Linked DNA regions of Homo sapiens. The protein of the gene in region 4 purifies or fractionates together with the protein of the main gene of each other region. This does not show direct contact. Each region holds a gene or a part of one and is shown on either strand. Other genes may lie near its edges.

Region 1 (3,500 bases), on a different chromosome or scaffold from region 4:
CAAGCAGTCCTCCTGCCTCGGCCACCCAAAGGGTTGGGATTACAGGCCTAAGCCACTGTGCCTGACCTTGAGGATACTCTTGAAGGTGATGGATATGTTCCTTATCTTGATTGTACTGATATTTTTTTAAGTAGATATTTTTGTCAAATTTATCAAATTGTACACTGTAAATATATGCAATTTGTCCTGTCAATTTTGCTCAATAAAGTCGTTAAAATATATCAGTTTATTCAATTTATTAGTAATCACCCTTATATCAAAGATTAGTGTTTTACTTATTACTATCACTCTACTTGGTGGCAATGGTCACTATTCACTATTTTCAAATACAATATTAAGGTTTTTTAAATTCAGGCATAGTAAATTGAGGTCTATTTTCAAAATATCTTTGAGGTTAAAGGAAGTAACTGCAGGCCAGGTGCGGTGGCTCATGCCTGTAATCCCAGCACTTTGGGAGGCCGAGGCTGATGGATCACCCCCGGTCAGGAGTTCGAGACCCGCCCGGCCAAGATGGTGACACCCTGTCTCTACTAAAAATACAAAAAAGTAGTCGGGCGTGGTGGCGGGTGCCTGTAATCCCAGCTACTCGGGAGGCTGAGGCAGAGAATTGCTTGAACCCAGGAGGCAGAGGTTGCCGTGAACCGAGATTGCGCCACTGCACTCCAGCCTGGGTGACAGAGTGAGAGTCCATCTCAAAAAAAAAAAAAAAAAAAAAAAAGAAGTAACTAAATTTTGAAATCATGTAAATTTGAGAATGTCTTCATGTAACCTTTGACTATGAATATGTTGCCTGAGTTTACCAAAAAAATAAATAAATAAATAAATAAATAAATAAAAAGGAGGAAGGTTGTCAGAACCATAGGGCAAGAACAAAGGTCACACACACAAGTAACATTTTGAGGTCCTAAATTCAACCAGTAGGTTTTAGAAATACCAACTTTTTTTGTTTTTTTGAGACAGGGTCTGGCTCTGTCACCCAGGCTGGAGTGGAGTGGAACAATCAGAGCTCACAGCAGCCTTGAACTCCTGGGCTCCAGAGATCTTCCCACCTCAGCCTCCCAAAGCACTGGGATTACAGATGTGAGCCACCACGCCTAGACTAAAATAAACATTTCTTGATCATATTTTTGGAGAAATTAGATATGCAAATCTAGTTAATATAAGATTAGAACTGTAAGAGAAGTCTTGAGCCTACTTAAAATCAGTTAATCAATATTTAATTTATTGTTGCAGACACATGTAACAGGATATCTGATGCTTCATACACTGTTCAATGCCTTTTAATTTTATGACTTGTATGATAGTTCTCGGCTATTCATTCTTGGGTTTTACTGAAGTTCCAAAAATCAAAGAGCTTTGATTCTTGTAATGGAAATATCTAGAGAAACTTGTGTTTAACTGACTCGGCAGAGATGAAGGCCAAATTCTCATATGTACCTATAACATTACTCAAATACTATTCTTAGTACAAAAAAGTTAAATATACTCTTATCTCTGAACATGAGCTATTCAGACCAAGGCCACTCAGGTCAGAGTAGAATACTCAAAAGCTGGCTTTAGCAGTCCCTTTCCTCCTAAAAAATGGATTATTGCTCTGAGGCCCAGGTATACTCAGCTTCATCCCTCCCAAGGCTATTCTGTCAAAATTCCACTTTTATTTCCACCCAGTCTACCTCTTTCTAGTCTTCAATTATCTGTTTACTCTAATGCCAGATCCAAATTTCTCAAGTTGAGGTAAAGAGAGACAAAATAAGACCATGTATACTAGAACAGGGAAAAATGAATTCATGGTTGTAGAGGATGTGAATCTAGATATGCATTTCCATTCAGTGCTACAGATTTAATATCTAGTAAAATGTTAGCCACATGGTGCTATATCATGTAATTTTTATGTCCTACTTCTCCTATGAAACATTTCTCATCATTCTTGATTTTCCTACAGTCTACTGGCCATATTGTAAATAATTTTTTTTTCTTTTCTTTTTTTTTTTTTTTTTTTTAGAGACAGGGTCTTGCACTCTCACCCAGGCTAGAGTGCAATGGTGCTATCATAGCTCACTGCAGCTTCCAACTCTTGGGCTCAAGCGACCCTCCCACCTCAGCCTCCCAAGTAGTTAGACTACAGATGCATGCAACCTCATGCCCCCTTAATTAAAAAAAAATTTTTTTTGTAGAGAGATGGGGTCTCACTATGCTGACCAGGCTGGTCTTGAACTCCTGGCCTCAAGTGATCCTCCTGCCTCGGCCTTCCAAAGTGCTGTGATTACAGGTGTGAGCCACCATGCCTGGGCAACATAGTAAGGCCCTGTCTCTAAAAAAAAAAAAATTTAAATATAAATTTAAAAATTAAAAAATTGGTTAAAGTTTACTGTAATTATACAGGTTGATAAAATAAACCACTAAATTACAGTCCTCTCTTTGCACTACTTATAATGGAGAAACAGCTCAAGTGTCCAACAAGAGAGTAAGGATGACCAGGCATGGTGGCTCACACCTATAATCCCAACACTTTGTGGGGCAGATGGGAGAATCACTTGAGGCCAGGAGTTCGAGACTAGCCTGGTCAACAGAGCAAGATCCCATCTCTACAAAAAATTAAAAAATTAGCTAGACATGGTGGCATGCATCTGTACCCCGAGCTACACCCGGAGGCTGAGGCAGAAGGATTGCTTGAGCCCAGGAGTTCAAGGCTGCAGTGAGCTATGGTCACACCACTGCACTCCATCCTGGGCAACAGAGCAAGATCCTATCTCTTAAAAAAAAAAAAAAAAGAGAGAGTAAGGCTGAGTGTACTAATTCCACATAATATTACTATTTAAGAAAGAAATGAGTAATATGGACACATTTTTATGAAACACTAAACATGAGGAAGAGAAAGGCCCAATATAGAACTCATTCACTGATGACAACTAGGTAAGAAGTCTGAATCTCTATAATGTATTTTTAGCAAATGTCAAATCAAATATACTAACAGTCATACTGATCATCCAAAGGAAGACCAGGAAAAAGAATGTTTTTCACCACACCGAGTTTAAAAACTGCTGGAGTAACCTAAATGAGAGTCCTTTTGAATTGCCAAAGCTTTTCTTTAGGTACAATACTTATTCAACTAGAGAAACTGAAGCTGTCCTAATGACAGGACAGCTTCAATTTATACAAATAAATTTTCTTGAATAGAAACACAAAGCTTTGGCCGGGCACGGTGGCGTGATCACACCTGTAATCCCAGCACTTTGGGAGGCCAAGGCGGGCAGATCACGAGGTAAAGAGATCGAGACCATCCTGGTTAACACGGTGTAACCCCGTCTCTACTAAAAATACAAAAAATTAGCTGGGCGTGATGGTGGGCGGCTGTAGTCCCAGCTACTCGGGAGGCTTAGGCAGGAGAATGGCGTGAACCCGGGAGGTGGAGCTTGCAGTGGGCCGAGATTGCACCACTGCACTCCAGCCTGGGTGGCAGAGTGAAACTCCATCTCAAAAAAAAAAAAAAAAAAAAAAAA
Region 2 (3,500 bases), about 170 Mb from region 4:
ACTCCTAGGCAACCTGGCCATGGTGCCCGGATGCAGGCAGTATTCAAGAGTTTCTTCCAAAGTCACCAGGGTGAAAAGCCATTCTACTACAACCTCTACATGACCTTTTAAAGTGTACAACTTATAGGACAGTCCTTTCTGGAGTACTGTGGAGGGTGAATCAAAGCTTCCAGTGTAAGTTTATTGTCTGGCGAAAACACCAGAGCCAAAAATTCCACCAAGGCCCTGGAAAGACTGAAGTCCCCTCTGTCTCATACAGTAATCATCCATGAGATCTCCCGGAGCCTGGGTGATCATTACGCCCATGATACCTGAGGCAGCGTGGACTCTGCCAGGGGCTCCTCAGACCCAAAGTGGAGCTCACTTTGGAGAGTCGGAGCTCATGGCCGTTAGCACCTAAGGATGTGGCTGAAAGGCACAGAGCAAGAAAGGGCTTCAGAGACCAGGCACAGGTTAATTTTAGAACTGGAGCACACGTGAGAGTTGTAGTTTCACCACCAAGAAGCTTATTCTCTCTAAGCTTTTGAATTTGCAGCAACTTAATTGTGTGTGTGTGTGTGTGTGTGTGTGTGTGTGTGTGTGTTTGGGGGAGGAGGTGAACTGGGCTTTGATAGATACATGAAATGATGAAAAACCAAGAAAGAGAGCTGGGTGTGGTGGCACGTGCCTGTGGTCCCAGCTCCCCGGGAGGCTTGAAGGATCGCCTGAGCCTAAGAGTTTGAGGCTCCAGTGTGCTATCATCACATCTGTGAATAGCCACTGCCCTATATCCTAGACAACATGGTTAGACCATGTCTCTAAGAAGAGAGAGAGAGAGAGAGAGAGAGAAAACAACCCAAAACAAGAAAGATAGATTGATAGATTGAGGCAACACAAGCATCCTTAGGAAGAGAAGGAAGATCTGATGACTGACATTAACCTGTTAATTTATACCATGGCTCTGTACAAAAATAAAAAGGTTCTCATAAGATTAACAATTTAAATAAATATTTGATAGAACATTCTTTCTCATTTTTATAGCTCATCTTTAGGGTTGATATTCAGTTCATGCTTCCCTTGCTGTTCTTGATCCAGAATTGCAATCACTTCATCAGCCTGTATTCGCTCCTGCAAAAAAGACAATTTACACATTTCTGTTACAAGCATAATAATCAGTCTCATCAGCAGACGCTTCCCAAACACTTCCTGGCATCCATCTGTACATGGGTTGATGCTATATCCAGTTAAGCATTGAACACCTCCTCTTCATCCCCAGACAGATGCCTTCTCCTAACATTCCTGGGTCCTAAGCAATTACTTTCTAAGATTTTCTCTCCTGCAAAGAACGACTGTATGTTCAACTGCTTCCTACTCTTTCTAATTCATGGCCCCATAGCCATCTCCAACTCAGTTCAGTGGTCAAGCTGAATTCACCATTTTCTCCCCAAGAACCTGCTCTGTTCTTCACGTAGGCTCTCTCTCGGTAAAGACCAACATCGCTCACCTATTTGCCTTAAAAGCCCGACCATGGTTTCCTGCATCTGATAAGTCACCTATTCTGTTCTATCTGCTGTCTCTGCCCCTTTCTCCTCAATGCACTATTGTTGCCGGAGTTTAGGTCAGGGTTTCTCAATTTTGGTCTGATTGACATTTTTAGACCAGATAATTATTTGTTGGGGGGTGGGAGGGTGGTGCTGCCCTGTGCCCTGCAGGATGCTCAGCGACACCCCGTCCTCTCTACCTACCACAGGTGTCAGTAACAACCTCCCCCACCAACCCCCAGATATTGCCAAATGTCCACTAGAGGGCAACATTGCTCCCTCTTTTTTTTTTTTTTTTTTTTTGAGATGGAATTTTGCTCTTGTTGCCCAGGCTGGAGTCCAGTGACGCGATCTCGGCTCACTGCAACCTCTGCCTCCCGGGTTCAAGCGATTCTCCTGCCTCAGCCTCCCAAGTACCTGGGTTTACAGGCGCTCACCACCATGCCCGGCTAATTTTTTATATTTTTACCATGTTGACCAGGCTTGGTCTCAAACTCCCGACCTCAGGTGATCCACCCGCCTCGCCCTCCCAAAGTGCTGGGATTACAGGAGTGAGCCACTGCACCCGGCCAATCGCTCCCTCTTGAGAGCCACCATTGTAAGCCCTCATCATCTCTTAATTACTGCCGCAGCCTCCAAATTGCTCTCGCTGTTTCACTACTCACCCTCACATGCTTCTAATGAATCCTACTGGCTTATATCTGATTATATCTCTTTCCTACTCACAGCTCTTCAATGGGTCCCTACTGCTTGAAGTTTCAGGTCTACTTTTCTTGGTGTGCTTATAAGAAGTTGCTTTACACCTGTCTCTTCTTTTTTTTTTCTTTTATTTATTTATTTATTTTTTATTATTATACTTTAAGTTTTAGGGTACATGTGCACAATGTGCAGGTTAGTTACATATGTATACATGTGCCATGCTGGTGCGCTGCACCCACTAACTCGTCATCTAGCATTAGGTATATCTCCCAATGCTATCCCTCCCCCCTCCCCCCACCCCACAACAGTCCCCAGAGTGTGATATTCCCCTTCCTGTGTCCATGTGTTCTCATTGTTCAATTCCCACCTATGAGTGAGAATATGTGGTGTTTGTTCTCTCTTCTTATTCATACCTTTCTCTCTTCTTTAGGTTTATTTTGCCTCCCTTCTCCTCACCTTATATTCCAACTTCTTAACTTACCTCAAGCTCCCTGAATGTAACACTTTCAAAAGAATTCCCTAATCCGATTCTGAATTAAGTGTTTCTCTGGATGCTCCCATTATATTCTACGCTTTCTTTTATTCCTCACATTAATCCATCAGCAGGTGCAGCTGGTCTACCTCCAAATTGTATCTCAAATCTTCCATCTCTTTTTACCTTCTCTATTACTACTCCAGTCCAAGACCACATGTTAGCTAAAGTAATCTTCTGTATCCTGTAACTCTCCAGGACTGGAGGAGATATGTGTGTGTGTGTGTGTGTGTGTGTGTGTGTGTGTGTGTGTGTGTGTGTGTGTTGGGGTGTGGGGACTACATGACTTTCCACTAGTTAGAATACAATTCGCATTTCCCAATCAGCCTGTGGAATCCGACTCCTGCCGCCTCCACGTCCTCTACTGAAGCCACTCTCCCTCTTGTCTGCCATATTCCAGATGCTCTGGCTTTCTTTGTTTCTTGGTGACTCCAAACATCTTATTGTCTCTGGGCCTTTGCAGCTTGTCCTCTGCCTGGAATACTCTCCTCCAGACATTTATCCTAGTGGACTTCTAATTTATTAGGTTTCAGCTCACATGCCACTTGTTTGGCGAGGCCTCACAATTTGCCGCTCCTACCCTTTCACTCCAGAATCAGTTGTCTTGTTCCATTTTCCACACATCATTGGTCACCGTGTGAAAAATCTCTCGATTATTTATTTATTTTTTACTTTTTTGGGATCTGTTTCCTTCCACTAGAATGTAAGCTCCAGAAGAGCAGGGCATCTTATCTTCTTGGTCACTACTG
Region 3 (2,622 bases), about 130 Mb from region 4:
CTGTAAAATTATCAAAATAACTTAGGTAACAGCTTTGTCAATGATACAATGACGAAACAAAGTAATGTAAGGTCAGTAGACTCCTTTCCTACTTCTTAAATGTATATGTGAAGTTTAGCTATAAAGTAAATAAAATTGACTTCCTAAGCCCTCACATCCTTTCTTAAAAATGAGTCTTTTTTTACAGTGACCCTTTAGGCAGTCTCAGCTGCTTGATGAGCATACACTTAGCATATCTGCTGTCTGTATTACCAAACACTAAAAACAAGCTTTCCCCGCCCTTCCTCACTTCTATTTGTAACACTCAAAAGTTTTTGAATGATTGCTTTTCATTATTTCATCACCCACTAACTTAAGTTCTTCCTTATACTTTAAGCTTCCCTCTCCCTTATCAGCTCATTACCTGGGGGACATAACCGTGCAGAGGCAGTAATATTCCAGAGTATTCTGCTAAAATGGCATGTCTGTTCTCAGAGGGAAAGAAACACATCTAACCACTGGCAGTAGTATTTCCTGCCAAGTCTTTGACACTGAATGCAAATGCAAAACTGAATTACACCTAAGGCACTCAGATCCCTCCTTCCTATCTTTACACACAAAAACAGTTTTCAGAGCCAGATAACATTTGCCTTAGAATTTTCACCACAGCTCACTGTGAAAACGCAAGGAATAAAAAGTGGCCTTGGAAAAGAGTGACATCACTCTGTAAAGACATGTGTTACCTAACAAACTCTGGCCTGAGGACATCGACCCTTAGGGAACATCCAGTGTAATTACATGCATAAATGAGAAACCCGCCCAAACTAATGAAATTACTTAAGTGTTAAAAAAATTGGTTGGTGGGAGAAGTAGACTGAAATCAGAGCCTTGGCTAGCCAATTTATCTAAGTCTAGAACTCAGAGACATATGAGAAAAAGTATATAACCCCTCCGAATTCTCTGAGTATCTACTTAACCCCCACATACATTTTAGTTCTTAGTGTGAAATTACAACTTACATGATGTTTTCCCCCAGACCATTTGCCGTAATGTTCCATTTCTTCTACCAATTCATCACAGGCTTTTTCAGAAAATATGGGGAACCAAAAGACATCTGGACAGGGCTATAAAATATGCATCATCGTTAGAAGACATAATAACTTCTGTGTCTTAATAGTCTAAAATAGTTATTTTAATATGTGTAAAATAAAAAATCCTGTATGACTAGGAAACATAGTTTTCTGTCATGGTTTATTGACAGTATTTTTTTTCTCATGGTACATAAATAATGGTGCACCTCAGAATTGATGACATCTTACATTCTCAAAAATTAGGTATTAACAATAGTTTTGAACACTAAGCTAAAAGAGAATTCATGTTTCAAAGATGTCTCTGAGAAAAGACTCTTCCAGAAAGACAGCCCAGTTTCTTCCAAAGATAAGCTTTCACTGCAAGAGTTCTACATCAGAGATCTGTCAACAGTTTCTATTTTTAGTGGTTTCAGAAAGCTATGACACATAGGAGCATGCTTTTTAAAAAGGCATGCTTTTAAAATGTTAATTTCTATGTTCTACATTTTACAACTGTATGTTCCTTAATGCTATTTAATCAGTAATTGAATCAAATAAATTTTACCTAAAAGGTAGTTTCTCCACTTTCACATCTTCTGTGAAAGTAGTATTAATAATATTTCTTCTGGAAAATAACAGCAAAATTTTCTATACTTTGTAATCATTAATACAAACCTGTTCAACTATATTTTCAGTGAAAATCTTTGAATAATCACGGTTTATATACTTTTCCTTCCAGTCCTATAAAAAGAAGTACATATTAAAACAAATATCTTTATAAATACTTCACTGAAAAGTATAAAGCATATGCATTTTAGAAATTATTCAACTTATAAATGATTATGTATAGTGGACAAAATAGTAATTTTCAGAAATCACAGTATATAGCCTAATCTTTGCCTGGTTCTGAATATGCTTATGTCATTCTATGAAATACAAAATTTTTATTTATGAAATATTGTACCTCAGGATTTTAAAACTTAAGTAATCTTACAGTGAATAGATTTACACATTTTACAGATGCTCCTTGACTCACGATGGGGTTATGTCCCAATAAACCCGTGGGAGGTTAAAAACACACAGTACCCCGATAAATCCAACATAAAGCTGAAAATTCCTAAGTAAAGCCACCGTAAGTTGGGGACCATCAGTATTTTAATATATACACAGAGTAGGTAAATAAAGGTGTGCTTAAAGGTAAAAGACAAGGAGCAAAATTCTACCAACAAGTATTTGTAAAAATGAATTAGTGAACTAATTAACTAGGGTCTGTCTTATATGTCTATAGTAAATTACTCTAAATTTGATTTTTTAAATGAGTTTTTAAAATTTCTGCCTTCACTTCAGTTATTAATATTTATCAAGGAATAATCATGAGTTTACTAGCACTTGCACTTCTTTCAGTTACTAAAATTAAGGGTTAGGGCTCTATATTAAAAAATGGTTTCTCTTTATTCTAATCCATGAATTTGATTCTTTTTGACCAATCTCTGGCATAAAATCCACACACAAAGATATCTCAACTTTTTTCAACAAAAGCTAAAGAATTATTTTATTGGGACAAGTTCTTTAT
Region 4 (3,500 bases):
CAGTGGTGCAATCATGGCTTACCGCAGCTTTGACTCCTGGGCTCAGGCCACCCTCCCGCCTCACCTTCCTAAGTATCTGGCACTACAGGTGCGAACTACCATGCCCAGCTAATGTTTTGTATATTTTTCTTGGTAGAAATGGGATTTCACCATGTTGCCCAGGCTAGTCTCGAACTCCTGGGTTCAAGCCATCTGCCCACCTCGGCCTCCCAAAGTGCTGGGATTACAGGCATGAGGCACCATGCCTGGCCAATATTTAACTATTTAAATACAAAATTTAACTCTTAAACAATGTTAGCAGTCTTCAGTTCAAATACTTTTGTGTCCTTCTGGCAGTATGTGCACCGCCCTTGAAGAAGGACTGCAATAAGGCACAGTGACCTTAAGCTAAAGACACCTGTGCCTTACACTGAGGCCTGTGTGCTGACAGGGGCTTTGACCGTTGTGGCTCAGATCTGAGTCCCCTGTGAGAAAGGTTTCTGCATTTGAATAGGACCACAGCCCTCTAAGAGGTAGGAAAAGCAAAAAAGCAAAAAAACAAACAAACAAACAAAAACCCAAAACCCAGATGGGTTGTCCTTTCCTTCCCATTGAGCTAGAGGGAGGCTCCAGACCATCCTGCCACCCTCTCCCCAGGGTGAAAAGCAACTTGCTTCCCGTCCCAAAATAGAAGTTTCCATGGTTAAACCCACCATCCCTGCCTGATAGACAAGGAGGCAGAGTTCTTTTTGTTGTGCTTGGAGGACCTGATATTTTTATTGAGGCCTATTTTCACTACCTCAAGGTTACTTACTTTCTGCCCCAACATTCCAGGAAATCCTGGGAAACCCTGTGAAAAGAGCAACAAATAATTGTGATCACCTCTGAAATAACACCTGAAATGGCTGTGGACAGGCTTTGTTGGTCATTTTCAAGATGGAGGCCTGTCCATCAGTCCATCATCAGTCCACGGATGGGGGTGGGTGGGGGCTGCTACTTGCACTGACATTTATCATTTCTATGGAAAGGTTTTCTCCATTACCTTTTCTCCTTTGGGACCCAGGTCACCCTTTTCACCTCTGGATCCCTAGGAAGAAACCATAGGAGAAAGTCAATGAGTTAATATCCTGGGAGGGAAATTCAAGCATTTCAAACTGAAAAGCTCCCTAAACCAAAACCCTCATTTTACAAGTGAAGAAATAGGCTCAGATATGTCAGGTGACTTCTCCAGGGAAGGAATGCTTTGTGATCTACTTCTTGTTGAACCCCAAAGACCTCTTGCATTCATAAAGGACAACTCACGGAAAATTCTGGGCCCCAAATCCTCTCTCATCCTGTAGGAAATTTGTCCACAGGTTGATGCTGTTTTGATTTGGTTTTTGGCCAGGTCAGAAGGTTGTGTGGTGGTGAAAGCTTGGCCTAAAGACATGCATCACCAATTTCCTCCAGCACTCTGTGCAAACTGTGCTTATTCTCTACCTGGCACGGCCTTCATTTGCTTATGTGCTCCACACGAGGGGCCTCTGCCTCTATGGGGAGCCCTTCTCTTACCAGCTTGCCCTGCTTCAGGAGGTCCCTCACTTCTCTCTCAGTCCACTGACAAAGGGTGGGGAATAGCTAGGGATGGTGGCTTCAGTTGCAGACTAAAGAGAGACCTGGACCCATTCTCTGCATGTCTCTGATTCCAGAGCCAGTAGCCCAGACCAGGCTCTAGGACACCATCCAAGAAAAGCACTAACCTTTTCCCCTCTGGATCCAGGGTAGCCCTAAAAGAAAGCAGAAGGTACATTTACAATCAGCCCTGTAGGACTTCTGAGTTTGGTGGAAGAATAGAAGGAATCCCTGAATGTGGTGGTAAGGTATGTCTCCACATTGCACTGTGAGTTTTAGTGGGGTTGCAGCACCAAACACAAAGATGTCCCAGAGGGTTGTGGTTATACCAGGCCTAAAAGGAACATTGCTTTTATCACTCTGCAAAGTCCTGATCAAAGGTTTCCATCTGCTCTGATGTCCAGAAGCTTGGTTCTTCCTGCCCAAGAGAACAGCAGGAATGGCATCCCTATGCCCCTGCATCCCAGGGCATGATGTTCTCCAAAGGGCTGGTAAAGGCAGGCTCTCCAATATCCGCGACATTCCCTAGTCCGGGACTGCAGCCCCACCCAGTCCCTATGTTTGTAGACAGCAGCTGCTCCAGAGCCTGACAGAGATCTGGGAACGTCCATTTGGACCCCACACTGACCTTGGAGCCCATTGGTCCTCTTGACCCTGGCAAGCCCATCATACCCAGGTCACCTTTTTCACCCTGTGGGAATTAGAAGAAGAAAAGACCCACGGTGATATTTTTTAGAGAAACTGAACCAGGAAGTCACAGGCAAGATTGGGAAGGAACTGGGGATATCAGGGCTGGCTTGTAAATCTGAGGACCCCAGATGCACCCACTTTCTCCCTCCTGAGGTCCCAAAACTCCGTACTCCACATTTCATTCTTGTGTTTAAGATTAAATATAAAATGAAAACGCCCAAAGTGAAGCAGATCCCCACACCAACTGCTCACTAAGATGTTGTATATGGTAATACTTGGTATTTTCCTAGCGAGGATAGTGAGAGAGTAGTGGAGGGGGCATGACGGAACTGGGGCCCCAGAAAACAAGGTGTCAATACACGCAAAAAACATTGCCTGCTTTGCTCTTTGCATAGGAAGGGTCCTCAGAATGATTTGTGGTTGGGACTTCCAGCACCCACCCTCTGTACTAAAAATACTCTATACCAGCACTAACCAATAGAAATATAAGGTGAGCCACATACTTAATTTTAAACTTTTAAAAGAAGTCACCTTAAAGTAAAACTAAACGAATGAAGTTAATTTTAATAGATCTCCTTTAATCTAATTAATCATCCCAACTTGTAATCTATACAAAAATTATTGAGATATTTTACATTGTGCTTTTCATAATAAGTACTTGAAATCTGCTATGTAATTTACATTTACACATCTCCATTCAGGTGCTAAATTTTCATCCAAAATATTTAATCTGTACTTAGAGATCATAAAATTTATAGTTGAAAAAGCAGATTCATGCATTCAAGTTGCTCCAAACATACTTTAACATTTTCAAATAACTGAATTTAGTAAAGGTTAATTCAAATAGTTAAAATTTAAAAATTCAGTTCCTCAGTAGCACTAGCAACATTCCACGGGCTTGAGGGTCACATGTGGCTACTGGCTGCTGTGCAGGACAGCTCAGCTGTATGCAGAGGATTTTTAAAATATCCTTTTGGGACTTTTCCTAAGAGGACTGGACACACAGTTTTCCACTGCTATAATATAGCCAGTAAACAAATCAGAGCAGATGGTGAGATCCACCTGCCCAGCTCTGACTTCTGCAGATAAAACTCTGAGTCACGCCTCTGAACCCTCTAGTCTATGACTACTAGTGGGAAAAACAGAGGCACAGATGGGGATGTGCTTGCTTTCCATAGCCTGACTGAGGAAGGAGATTTCATCAGCACTCGACAATCCCT
Region 5 (3,500 bases), on a different chromosome or scaffold from region 4:
CTTCCGCCTCCCATATTCAAGTGATCCTCCCGCCTCAGCCTCCCCAGTAGCACCACCACGTCCGGCTAATTTTTGTATTTTTAGTAGAGATGGGGTTTCACCATGTTGGCCAGGCTGGTCTCAAACTCCTGACCTCAAATGATCCACCCGCCTTAGCCTGCCAAATTGTTGGGATTACAGGCATAAGCCACTCTGCCTGACCAACCAATAGATCTTAAAGAGCTAGGGAATGAAGCTAACCAGCAAAGCCAGGGCTGGAGAGAAACGGGGTCCTGGAGACATTATCTGAACACCTAGATACAGCTGCACCTGAAGTCAGCCCTGCGCTGCATTGTTTGGGTTCTGTGAATCTTCAGTGTGTTCTGAACTGGCTTAGTGCAAAACCCAAAGAACCAGGCAGATGCCCCTGCGATGGCAGACCCCTCATGTACGTACCTGCCTGCTTGCAGGAGAAGGCAAAGACGATGATGTCGTCAAAGGACCAGGTGTAGTCAGGGTGAGGTGGGTAGAAGGCCAGGTTCCTGGACGCCGCCTTCCGCAGGTCGATCAGGAAGGTCGAGTGCACCATGGGAACTGCAAAGCAGCCCCGGCGGTCTCGCTTGCGGATAGGGATGTAGGCAGGTGTGCGCTTGTAGTAGCCCTGTGGGGAGAGAGCGAGAGTTCCGCGTAGGGGTCTTGAAAGGTGAGGATGGAGACCCGTGATAGTGGGCGGCATGAAACAGGACCAGACAGACAGCCAGGCACAGCAGTGTGCGCCTGTGGTCCCAGGACCCCAGACTCAAGCCCAGTGTGGGACCTGTGGCCAGGCATGGCCAATAAGAAAGAGCCTTGTATTTTCCCAGCTTCAGTAATGAGTTCAGAGGTAGTGTGGAGAGGAGACTAGCAATGGCCCAATCAGAATGGATGATGGCTAGACGCTGCTGGGATCACTCTCAAGCTGTCTGAGAATGAACCCACCCAAAGGATGGAGAAAGACAGTTATCCAAACACCTGGATCAAGCCATGCCTGAAGTCCCATCCTGACACCACCACTTGCTAGCTGTGTGACTTTAGGCAAGTCACTTCCTCTCTGTGTTTCTGTTTCCACCTCTGGAATAGCATGGTGGGGGACAATCAAGGACCCTCTATTCTTCCCTCCTGTCTGGCCTCAGAGGGCTGTTTAAAGATTACCATAATGAGTTTTTGTTTTGTTTTGTTTTTGAGACCAAGTCTCACTCCGTCACCCAGGCTGGAGTGCAGTGGCGTGATCTCGGCTCACTGCAACTTCCGCCTCCTGGGTTCAAGTGATTCTCATGCTTCAGCCTCCCGAGCAGCTGGGAGGACAGGCATGTGCCACCATACCCGGCTAATTTCTGTAATTTTTTTTTTTTTTAGTAGAGATGGGGTTTCACCATGTTGCCCAGGATGGTCTCAAACTCCTGAGCTCAGGCAACCCGCCTGCCGCAGTCTCCCAAAGTGCTGGGGTTACAGGTGTGAGCCACCGTGCCCAGCTTCCATGATGATTTTTGTAAAACACACACCACGAGGTTGTGTGACAGTAAGTTACACTCTAGCCACGGCACCCCCCTGCTCAGCCCAGTCCCCACAGTCCCCAGGCCCTCACTCTACCTGGGAAGTCATTCCACACCAGAAGTTGGAGTACGCAGCCCGGGAATCCAGCATGGGGGCGACCACCGTCTTGTTCTCAGCGATGAGCAGGCTCAGTGTGTCAGGGTTGAGGATCAGGTTGTCCGCATCTACAAACTGCAGAACACCCCACAAAGCATCAGCATGGGCTGCCAGGTCAGGCTACCATTCAGAACAGCTGGGGCAAAGGCCAGTGCCCTGGGGGTCTGGCAAAGACCTCTGGAAGCACCCCCTACACCGGATGAAATGAAGCAGGGACCCCGTTTTGGGGGCCTGCAGGATCCCCTGGATCATGGAAATAAAGCAAAGGTCTTCAGTTCCTTCAAAGAAAATTCTAGGCACTGAGATAGCCCTGAGAAATAAATGAACAACCAATGAGCAAGAAGGTAGCAAAACCTTTTTTTTTTTGAGACGGAGTCTCGCTCTGTCACCCAGGCTGGAGTGCAGTGGTATGGTCTCAGCTCGCTGCAACCTCCGCCTCCTGGGTTCAAGCGATTCTCCTGTCTCAGCCTCCCGAGTAGCTGCGACTACAGCCGTGCACCATCACACCCGGGTAACTTTTTGTATTTTTAATAGAGACAGGGTACCATCATGTTGGCCAGGCTGGTTTTAAACTCCTGACCTCATGTGATTCGTCCACCTCGGCCTCTCAAAGTGCTGGGATTACAGGCATGAGCCACCATGCCTGGCCTACTATTTTACTTTTTCTTCATTTTTTATTTTTTAAAGGGATAGCATCTTGCTGTGTCACTCAGGCTGAAGTGCAATGGTGTAATCGTAGCCCACTGCAGCCTGGAGTTTCTGGGCTCAAGTGATCCTCTCATCTCAGCCTCTCAAGTAGCTGAGCGTACAGGCACACGTCACCATGCCTAGATAATGTTTTCATTTTTATTTTTATGTTTGTAGAGATAGGATCCCTCTACATTGCCTAGGGTGGTTTTGAACTCCTGGGCTCAAAGCGATCCTCCCCATGGCCTACAATAGTTCTGAGATTACAGGTCTGAGCCACTGCACCTAGACTAAAATTAAATATATATATATAAAATCACACATAGAAAATGATTAGGTCCGGACGTTCCCCCTCTACCAGGATGTAAAGACACAGAAGTCATGATATATCACAGAACTACCAGAAGGTTTTTTGTTTTTGTTTTTGTTTTTTTGAGATGGCGTCTCCTGTTGCATAGGCTGGAGTGCAGCGGCGTGATCTCGGCTCACTGCAACCTCCACCTCCCATGTTCAAGCAATTCTCCCTGAGTCTCCCAAGTAGCTGGGATTACAGACACATGCCACCACGTCAGGCTAATTTTTGTATTTTTTGGTAGAGATGGGGTTTCACCAGGTTGGCCAGGCTGGTCTCGAACTCTTGATTTCAAGTGATACGCCTGCCTCGGCCTCCCAAAGTGCTGGGATTACAGGTGTGAGCCATTGTGCCCGGTCTGGATTTTTTTTCTTTTACTGCTGGTCCACAGAGATGCTTTCTGTTACCCAGGCAGTATCGTTTAGAATATTTGGATTAACTGCCATGAACAACAACAAAAACTAGAATTCCAGTATCCCCTGGCAACGTGAGAATACCATTTCCACATGGCAACCTTCAGTTGCAGAGGGGAGGTGGCTGGGTCTTAGGACAAGCCCTGTGGTCATGTTACACACCCCATCCGGTCCCTCTGGATGTTTGAATCTGTGACCTTTGAATATTAATGCAGAACAAACAGCCAGATCACTGTGGCAGTTCCTCAAAAAGCTAAACATAGAATTACTACATGATCCAGGAATTCCATTCCTAGGTATGAACCAAGAGAATTGAAAGAAAGGACTCAAACAGCTTCTTTGTTTGTTTGTTTGTTTTTGAGACAGAGTCTTGCTCAGTC
Region 6 (3,500 bases), on a different chromosome or scaffold from region 4:
TGTTGGCCAGGCTGGTCTCGAACTCCTGACCTCGAGTAATCCACCTGCCTCTGCCTTCCAAAGTGCTGGGATTACAGGCGTCAGCCACCGCGGCCGGCCCTTGTTTTTTATTTTCTTGAGAAAGGGTCTCCCTCTGTTTCCAGGCTGGAGTGCAGTGGTGGAAACATGGCTCACTGCAGCCTCAACCTCCCAAGTTCAAGTGATTCTCCCACCTCAGCCTCCGTAGTAGCTGGGACCACAGGCACGCACCACCGTGCCCAGCTAATATTTTAAGTTTTTTGTAGAGATAGGCTCTTGCTACGTTGCTCAGGCTGATCTTAAACTCCCAGGCTCAAGCAGTCCTCCTACCTCAGCCTCCCAAAGTGGTGGCATCAAAAGTGTGAGCCACTGCAGCCAGCCTCATGGCACCTCTGACTGGTGACCACTCCAAACCCCTGAGAGTAGGGGGCTTGGGTCTACCTGGGCCCCGGGTCGGAGGAGGCGGGGGGCTGCAGGCTGGCGGGACTCACACTCGCTTCCGCTGCACCAGCTCCACGTAGTCCTCGGAGCGGGCGTAGTACTCATCGGGGCTCAGGGCGCCCCAGAAGTTGGACCACAGCTTGCCGTGGCGGGACAGCATGGGGGCGATCACCTTCCTGCGGACAGGTGGGGGTGAGGGCTGGGCAGACGGGAGCAGGCCTGGGGAGCCCGGTGCCCAGGGCAGGAGTGGGGTTCCCGGGGCCTGTTGGGGTGCCCTCCGGCTGCGGGGAGAGGGGGTAAGCCACCTGTTCTCCTCAATGAGGATACGCAGGGTCTGCAGGTTGGTGAGGACAGCGTCGGCGTCCAGGCTGAAGTAGAACTCACACTCGGGGTCCTGCCGACACAGGTCCCTGGAGGTGAGAGGCGAGCTGAGACGGCGGCAGGTGGGGAGGCGGTGTGGATGGGGTAACTGGCCCATGCCCCCAGGAGAAGAGGAGGGAGGCAGTGTCTATCCTTCCTTCCCCAGGCTCTCTGCTGTCTGGGTGAGCTGGCAAGGGCAGGAGTGACAGCATGGGGGCTGCAAGGATGCGAATGGGGAGGCCCAGGAGGGGCTGGATGGGTGACAGGTGAGGCAAGGGCCAGGCAGCAGGTGGCAGCACCCCTGACCCTACAGCCTCATCCCACCCTCTCCTCCCCGCAAGCACCCGCTCACATGGCCATGTCCCTGGCCTCGCCTGGGCTCAGAGCCTCCTCCGGCCCCACGAGCTTCACAGCTGAGAAGTGGTCCTGGAGCTGCGGCCAGGAGTCAGCGATGTGGGGTTCATGGAAGACCTCCTGGGAGGGGAAGACATAGGGGGATGGGCTCAGAGGGCAGGGAGGCGGCACCTGAGGGATGGGGGTGCAGGAAGGAGATGGGGGTGGGGGCACGAGAGTTCTGATCAGGGCAGGGAAAGGGTCCCTCAGGAGAGGCTCCAACAGGGGAGTCTCACGTTGTTGTGCAGGAAAAGGGTGACCCTGTCGGGGGGATAGTCCAGGAGTAGCAGCCGCTGCAGGAAGCGGGGCAGAAACGGAGTAGGCTGTTCCACAAACACGGCCAGAAACACCCGGGGGGGAGGCTGGAAGATGCAACACGCAGGGACTCAGAGAGAAGCCCGGACTTCCCTGCTGCCCCCACCCAACCTCCACCCTGACAGGTGCAGGGACCCAGGAGCGATGCCCCCACCGCCCCCCAGTCCGCTGTCCTTGTACCTCCTGCTCAGCACGCTGCCCTCTCGTGCCCCTCCCTGGCACCCCCACCTCACCTGCCCCCCCGGGAGTGTCCTCCGGTCCTGGTTGCAGAAGCCACAGCCTCCCTCAGGAGTCCAGCCATTGGGGACGTAGTTTCCCAGGTAGTTGAGCTGCAGCTGTTGGGGACAGACTGAGGCTGAGTGGCTGAGGCCTCCAGGGGTGGAGGTGGGGGTCAGGCACCTCTGATATGGGGGCTGGGAAGGGCCAGCTTCTCAGAAGGGTTGGAGGTGCCTGGGGGTTGGGGCAGGGCGGGGCGGGGGTTGAGACCACTGGTGGCACCTTAGTGGGACCGTTTCCATGGACCACAATGGGGAGCGTGTCGTAGGCCACGTTCCGGATACGCACACGGTTCCGATCAAACTTTAAAACCACTTCATCTGGGGAAGAAAAAGGCCAGGCTTCAGACCCCCTTTCTCTGGGAGCTACCAAGCAACACATTCTTCTAAATATGGGGTCCCAAATTCTCCAGGGAATAAAGGGACACCAGGGCTATCCTGGAGTGTGGCTCGTTGTGGGCAGGAACCTTTGGGTTCTGACCAGGCTGCTGGCCCAGAGAGCTCCACTGCCTACTACCTGCGTGATCACACCGCAGCTGGGCGAGGAAGGGGAGGGTGAGCTGAGCGGGAGGCCAGTAGGAGCCTCAGCATCCCTACCCCTCCTCATATTCTCTCTCTCCTTGTTTTTTTTTTTTTTTATTTTTATTTTTTGAGATGGAGTCTCACTCTGTCACCCAGGCTGGAGTGCAATGGCGTGGTCTCGGCTCACTGCAACCTCTGCCTCCTGAGTTCAAAAGATTCTCTTGCCTCAGCCTTTCAGGTAGCTGAGACTATGGGCACATGCCACTACACCTGGCTAATTTTTGTATTTGTATTTTTTGTTTTTTATGCTGAGATGGAGTCTCACTCCCAACACGCAGGCTGGAGTGCAGTGGCACGATCTTGGCTCATTGCAACTTCCACCTCCAGGGTTCAAGCGATTCTCCTTCCTCAGCCTCCCGGGTAGCCAGGATTACAGGCGCGCACCACCATGCCCGGCTAATTTTTGTGTTTTTAGTAGAGACAGGGTTTCACCATGTCGACCAGGCTGGCCTTGAACTCCTGACCTCAGGTGATCCACCTGCCTCGGCCTCCCAAAGTGCTAGGATTACAAGCATGAGCCACCACACCCAGCCTAATTTTTGTATATTTAGTAGAGACTGGGTTTCACTATGTCAGCCAGGCTGGTCTCAAACTTCTGACTTCATGATCTGCCCGCCTCAGCCTTCCAAAGTGCTGGGATTACAGATGTGAGCTGTCGCACCTGGCCTTTTTTTTTTTTGAGAAGGAATCTCACTCTGTCACCCAGGCAGGAGTGCAGTGGCGCAATCTCGGCTCACTGCAAGCTCTGCCTCCCGGGTTCCAGTGATTCTCCTGCCTCAGCCTTCTGAATAGCTGGGATTACAGGCACCCGCCACCACGCCCAGCTCATTTTTGTACTTTTTTTTAGTAGAGACGGGTTTTCGCCATGTTGGCCAGGCTGGTCTCAAACTCCTGACCTCAAGTGATCCTCCTGCCTGGGCCTCCCAAAATGTTGGGATTACAGGCGTGAGGCACCGTGCCTGGCCTCTCTCTCTCCCCGTTCTCCCCATCCCCTGAGGCAAGTCACCAACCCCTCCACAAGCTGTTTTCCTCATCTGTACAAGAAGGATAACCAGGGACCTTCCCTTTGTTAAATGGAATCACAGAAGTAGACCGGGCACAGTGGCTCATGCCTGT
Region 7 (3,500 bases), on a different chromosome or scaffold from region 4:
AACCTTACGAGTCTTCTAACAAGTAATCAGAGTACCCAAACAGGCTTATAAATGTAAAAAACAATCAAACCAACCAAAAAGAGTACATTACAAATGAGGCCATTTCATTCCTTCCTTCATTCTAAGTTCGAATGAATTTATCAGCTAACAATCCTCCGTTTCTAGGAACCTTCCAAGATTTGTCTTAATAGCCAAAGAACAACATTGATTTTCCCTTAACCCTTTTGTCCCAATTGTCCACAGACAGAACTGAAGTCCTTCCTAGGGACCTACTTCTCAGTTACCCCCAGGGAATCCCCTGACAAAGATGCTCCTCTAATTGAGGCAGGCTCAACCCTTGGCCAGCACCAGGGTCTGTGCCTCACTAGCTCATTCCCCTCCAGGCAGCTGATGGAAACTTCTCCCCTTCTACTACTGATTCTCAAGAAGCAGTCTGGAAGCATGGTGGACAGAATGCGTTTATTTCTCCAGTTTGGCCTATTTTAACTCCTACATACATGAACAGCCAATACAATTAAAGTAGAAACACAATTTTTAATATTCCTTATCACAGCCATTTGAAGCTCCTTTCTGCCCAAAAGGTCTAGACTGCCAGCAGAGGCCCTGAGACAAAGGCACTGCTATAAGATGCAGACTGTATCATGGCACAGTGGGAAAGTCACCATGTGCAAAATCCACGGCTTGCCTGCCTCTATGCCTCAGACAGGAACAAATCATGGGATGGATCTGGGATCTATACAACAGCTCCATGAGGCAGGACAATCATATGAGGTTTTATGCTGAATTACACCCATTTTCCCAATGAGGACACATAAAACCTCCCAAACATGTGAGAAGTTTCAGACCCAAATATAATAAGTGATGTATAGGCATGTGACCTGCGAAGTGAGTTTGTCAACCTTGTTTCACTTGAGTGTGAAAAATGCTTTATAATTTTGATAATCTTACCTTCAGCAGCTTTGTAAGAAATAACTTGCTCCAGGGGCCGGGCGCAGTGGCTCATGCCTCTAATCCCAGCACTGTGGGAGGCTGAGGAGGGCGGATCATGAGGTCAGGAGATCGAGACCATCCTAGCTAACATGGTGAAACTCCGTCTCTACTAAAAATACAAAAAAATGAGCCAGGCGTCGTGGTGGGCGCCTGTAGTCCCAGCTACTCGGGAAGCTGAGGCAGGAGAATGGCGTGAACCCAGGAGGCAGAGCCTGCAGTGAGCCGAGATCGTGCCACTGCACTCCAGCCTGGGCAACAGAGTGAGACTCCGTGTCAAAAAAAAAGAAATAACTTGCTCCCTTAAGGCCATTTCAGTTTCCTCATTCATAAAGTGAAAATACAAACTAAAGCTCGCAGGTTTTCTGATCCTGCCACTTAGAGAAAAAAGGCAAGACTAGGACACTGGTCTCCTGGAGTCCAAGGGACAGTGATTTGCCCAGCTTGTGCTCAGAGAGGGAACGGCAGTGGGGTGGCTTGGGCAGGTCTGTGTCCCCCTGCTGCACTGAATTTCTCTTGCCAGGAGGTCAGAAGGTGAGAGTCACATAAAGGTTGCTTAGTTATAGCAAACCTCAGGGGAAGCATCCTCTGACTGGCCTCAGCACAACAACCAGCTCTGGGTATGCGCAGCATTTTTTTGGCCTATTGGGAAAGCCCATCTAATGGTGTCCTGAAGACTGTATCTACTTCATCATCCTCACTGACTGAACTGTGACACCGGACGGGAATCAGGGAAGAGGGTGGTTGGCTACTACATGGACAAAGTCCTGATCCTTACCCCAACGAGTCACCTTAGAACTGCTCTGATCCTCACCATCAGCCCTGTCGTGCTTCCCTCATGGGATGCAATGCTCATTTGACTGGGCCTCTGCTTTTTAAAATAAGTGGTTTCATGACAGACTTCAGCCTGGTAGCAAAGACCAAAGGATCAGACAGAGGAATCCTTGGATACTGGGCTCAGCTCAGTTTCAGGGGATACCTGTCAGTGGCTCGGTCCTCCAAGCCCCATGGGGGCCAGGCCCAATTCCAAGCCTCTCTGGTTAGGGTGGTAGCTTTCTTAGTCCTCCCCATCCAGGGAGCAGATGGCCAGAGGAGCAGTGTTGTTGGTTCCAATGCTGTAGCAAGGACTAAAATAGGGCAGGAGGCGCCCAGGGAAGGGATAGCGGGGGAAAGTGAAGATGTGGGAGCCACAGTCAGTCACATTGTAGAAAGAAATGTCATGGGCCTCATAATCCACGAAGATTCCCACCCGGCGAGGAGGGACCGGCAAGGACAGGATTGGGTACTCATCGGTGCCTGCTCGGTACTCATTTCCCTTCCTCAGCCTTATCACCCAGAATCCATAGTGGGGGGATAAGTAGACCACCTCCTTCCGGTCTACATTTTGCTTACATACTCCCAGGCCCCACTCAGACCTGTCTCCCACCTCCACCTCCCAGTAGTGCCGGCCTGAGGAGATGCACTGGCTTCCCAGGACGATATTATAGCGGTAAAATCTCTCAGGATTGTCTGGCAGTTTCTGGTTGGTGTCTCCATAGTGCACACGTTTTCTGTCCTCAGACACGATGAGACGGGAGTAAGCAGTATCTGGATCCAAGCGCACATCAGCTAGAAGAAAAGGTCCTGGTTGGTAACAGTGATATAGGGCCAGGGGACATGGGTGAGAGCCCTCTGATAAATTCAGCCACAGATTTCTCAATGATGAAGGGGTGAGGCTGGATGGAGCACCCAGAGGGCACTGAACCATTTTCTATCTCTGGGAGGGGTCCCTCCCACTGTCCACTACAGTCTCCCCCAGGATCCATTACCTGCATAAGTCTTCAGGATCTCTCTTAGCCCCAGCACACGGCAATCTGTCTTCAACTCCAGGGAGATTGGTTCTGGCTGCTGCAAGCTCCAAGATTTGCTCCTGGTAGAGGAGGGTGAACCTCAGGGCCAGGAGTCCCGGCTTTGTCACATGGGCCTTATCTTAGTACAGGGAAGAGGGGCTTGGCCAGGGACATAGTGAACCCCAGCAAAGCAGAGACATGATGGTTACGGTTATTTGGCTGAGCCTCAAGCTGTTTGTGTGCAGAGGTGAGAACACCTGCATGCCCATGCTATGGGAAGGGTTGGATGTATATTTGATTCTGGGAGAGGAAGAAGTGCACACATTTTCTGTCGGACATGAAGGAGTCATGGGCAGTCTTTTATCCTCTTTGAGCAATCTACTTGAAACCACATATTTTACAGCTTCACTTGATATACATTTGATCAAGTACAAAGAAGAAAAAGGAAAGATCAACAAAGATTCCTTAGCCATTACCATGTAAGTGGGACGAGACTGTGGACCAGCACCTGCTTTTCTGTGTGCACCGAGTCTGTGCTCCGTCCCTACTTCTGGCTCTAGTTAGGCCTCACTATCCCCTACAGGGCTGCTTAGAGGCTCCAAGGGTGAGAACATACCTGTTTAACACTTCCTGAATATCCTGGAAGGAGAAAAAAAAATGCAGCATCTGAGTAAGTGCTATTCC

The links.
Region 1: the proteins of COLQ (region 4) and P4HA1 purify together in Homo sapiens (co-immunoprecipitation; 3 studies listed by BioGRID and IntAct, with this or other methods). This does not show direct contact.
Region 2: the proteins of COLQ (region 4) and P3H2 purify together in Homo sapiens (affinity purification with mass spectrometry; 2 studies listed by BioGRID and IntAct, with this or other methods). This does not show direct contact.
Region 3: the proteins of COLQ (region 4) and PLOD2 purify together in Homo sapiens (affinity purification with mass spectrometry; 2 studies listed by BioGRID and IntAct, with this or other methods). This does not show direct contact.
Region 5: the proteins of COLQ (region 4) and COLGALT1 purify together in Homo sapiens (co-immunoprecipitation; 2 studies listed by BioGRID and IntAct, with this or other methods). This does not show direct contact.
Region 6: the proteins of COLQ (region 4) and PLOD3 purify together in Homo sapiens (co-immunoprecipitation; 2 studies listed by BioGRID and IntAct, with this or other methods). This does not show direct contact.
Region 7: the proteins of COLQ (region 4) and TRIM68 purify together in Homo sapiens (co-immunoprecipitation; 3 studies listed by BioGRID and IntAct, with this or other methods). This does not show direct contact.

What each region holds. Positions count from the first base shown.
Region 1 is NC_000010.11:73,090,367-73,093,866, forward strand, and holds part of P4HA1 (prolyl 4-hydroxylase subunit alpha-1 isoform 2 precursor), read right to left. Parts: intron 1-3,500. UniProt on the Homo sapiens protein: Catalyzes the post-translational formation of 4-hydroxyproline in -Xaa-Pro-Gly- sequences in collagens and other proteins.
Region 2 is NC_000003.12:189,956,898-189,960,397, forward strand, and holds part of P3H2 (prolyl 3-hydroxylase 2 isoform a precursor), read right to left. Parts: intron 1,108-3,500; coding exon 1,015-1,107; 3' UTR 1-1,014. UniProt on the Homo sapiens protein: Prolyl 3-hydroxylase that catalyzes the post-translational formation of 3-hydroxyproline on collagens. Contributes to proline 3-hydroxylation of collagen COL4A1 and COL1A1 in tendons, the eye sclera and in the eye lens capsule.
Region 3 is NC_000003.12:146,071,563-146,074,184, forward strand, and holds part of PLOD2 (procollagen-lysine,2-oxoglutarate 5-dioxygenase 2 isoform 1 precursor), read right to left. Parts: intron 1,791-2,622; coding exon 1,725-1,790; intron 1,104-1,724; coding exon 999-1,103; intron 1-998. UniProt on the Homo sapiens protein: Forms hydroxylysine residues in -Xaa-Lys-Gly- sequences in collagens. These hydroxylysines serve as sites of attachment for carbohydrate units and are essential for the stability of the intermolecular collagen cross-links.
Region 4 is NC_000003.12:15,473,207-15,476,706, forward strand, and holds part of COLQ (acetylcholinesterase collagenic tail peptide isoform I precursor), read right to left. Parts: intron 2,282-3,500; coding exon 2,219-2,281; intron 1,746-2,218; coding exon 1,719-1,745; intron 1,067-1,718; coding exon 1,022-1,066; intron 830-1,021; coding exon 794-829; intron 1-793. UniProt on the Homo sapiens protein: Anchors the catalytic subunits of asymmetric AChE to the synaptic basal lamina.
Region 5 is NC_000019.10:17,565,649-17,569,148, reverse strand, and holds part of COLGALT1 (procollagen galactosyltransferase 1 precursor), read right to left. Parts: intron 1,744-3,500; coding exon 1,609-1,743; intron 641-1,608; coding exon 436-640; intron 1-435. UniProt on the Homo sapiens protein: Beta-galactosyltransferase that transfers beta-galactose to hydroxylysine residues of type I collagen. By acting on collagen glycosylation, facilitates the formation of collagen triple helix. Also involved in the biosynthesis of collagen type IV.
Region 6 is NC_000007.14:101,211,082-101,214,581, forward strand, and holds part of PLOD3 (multifunctional procollagen lysine hydroxylase and glycosyltransferase LH3 precursor), read right to left. Parts: intron 2,124-3,500; coding exon 2,026-2,123; intron 1,863-2,025; coding exon 1,761-1,862; intron 1,575-1,760; coding exon 1,449-1,574; intron 1,294-1,448; coding exon 1,172-1,293; intron 870-1,171; coding exon 765-869; intron 636-764; coding exon 510-635; intron 1-509. UniProt on the Homo sapiens protein: Multifunctional enzyme that catalyzes a series of essential post-translational modifications on Lys residues in procollagen. Plays a redundant role in catalyzing the formation of hydroxylysine residues in -Xaa-Lys-Gly- sequences in collagens.
Region 7 is NC_000011.10:4,598,232-4,601,731, forward strand, and holds the end of TRIM68 (E3 ubiquitin-protein ligase TRIM68), read right to left. Parts: intron 3,456-3,500; coding exon 3,433-3,455; intron 2,897-3,432; coding exon 2,796-2,896; intron 2,596-2,795; coding exon 2,045-2,595; 3' UTR 441-2,044; downstream 1-440. UniProt on the Homo sapiens protein: Functions as a ubiquitin E3 ligase. Acts as a coactivator of androgen receptor (AR) depending on its ubiquitin ligase activity.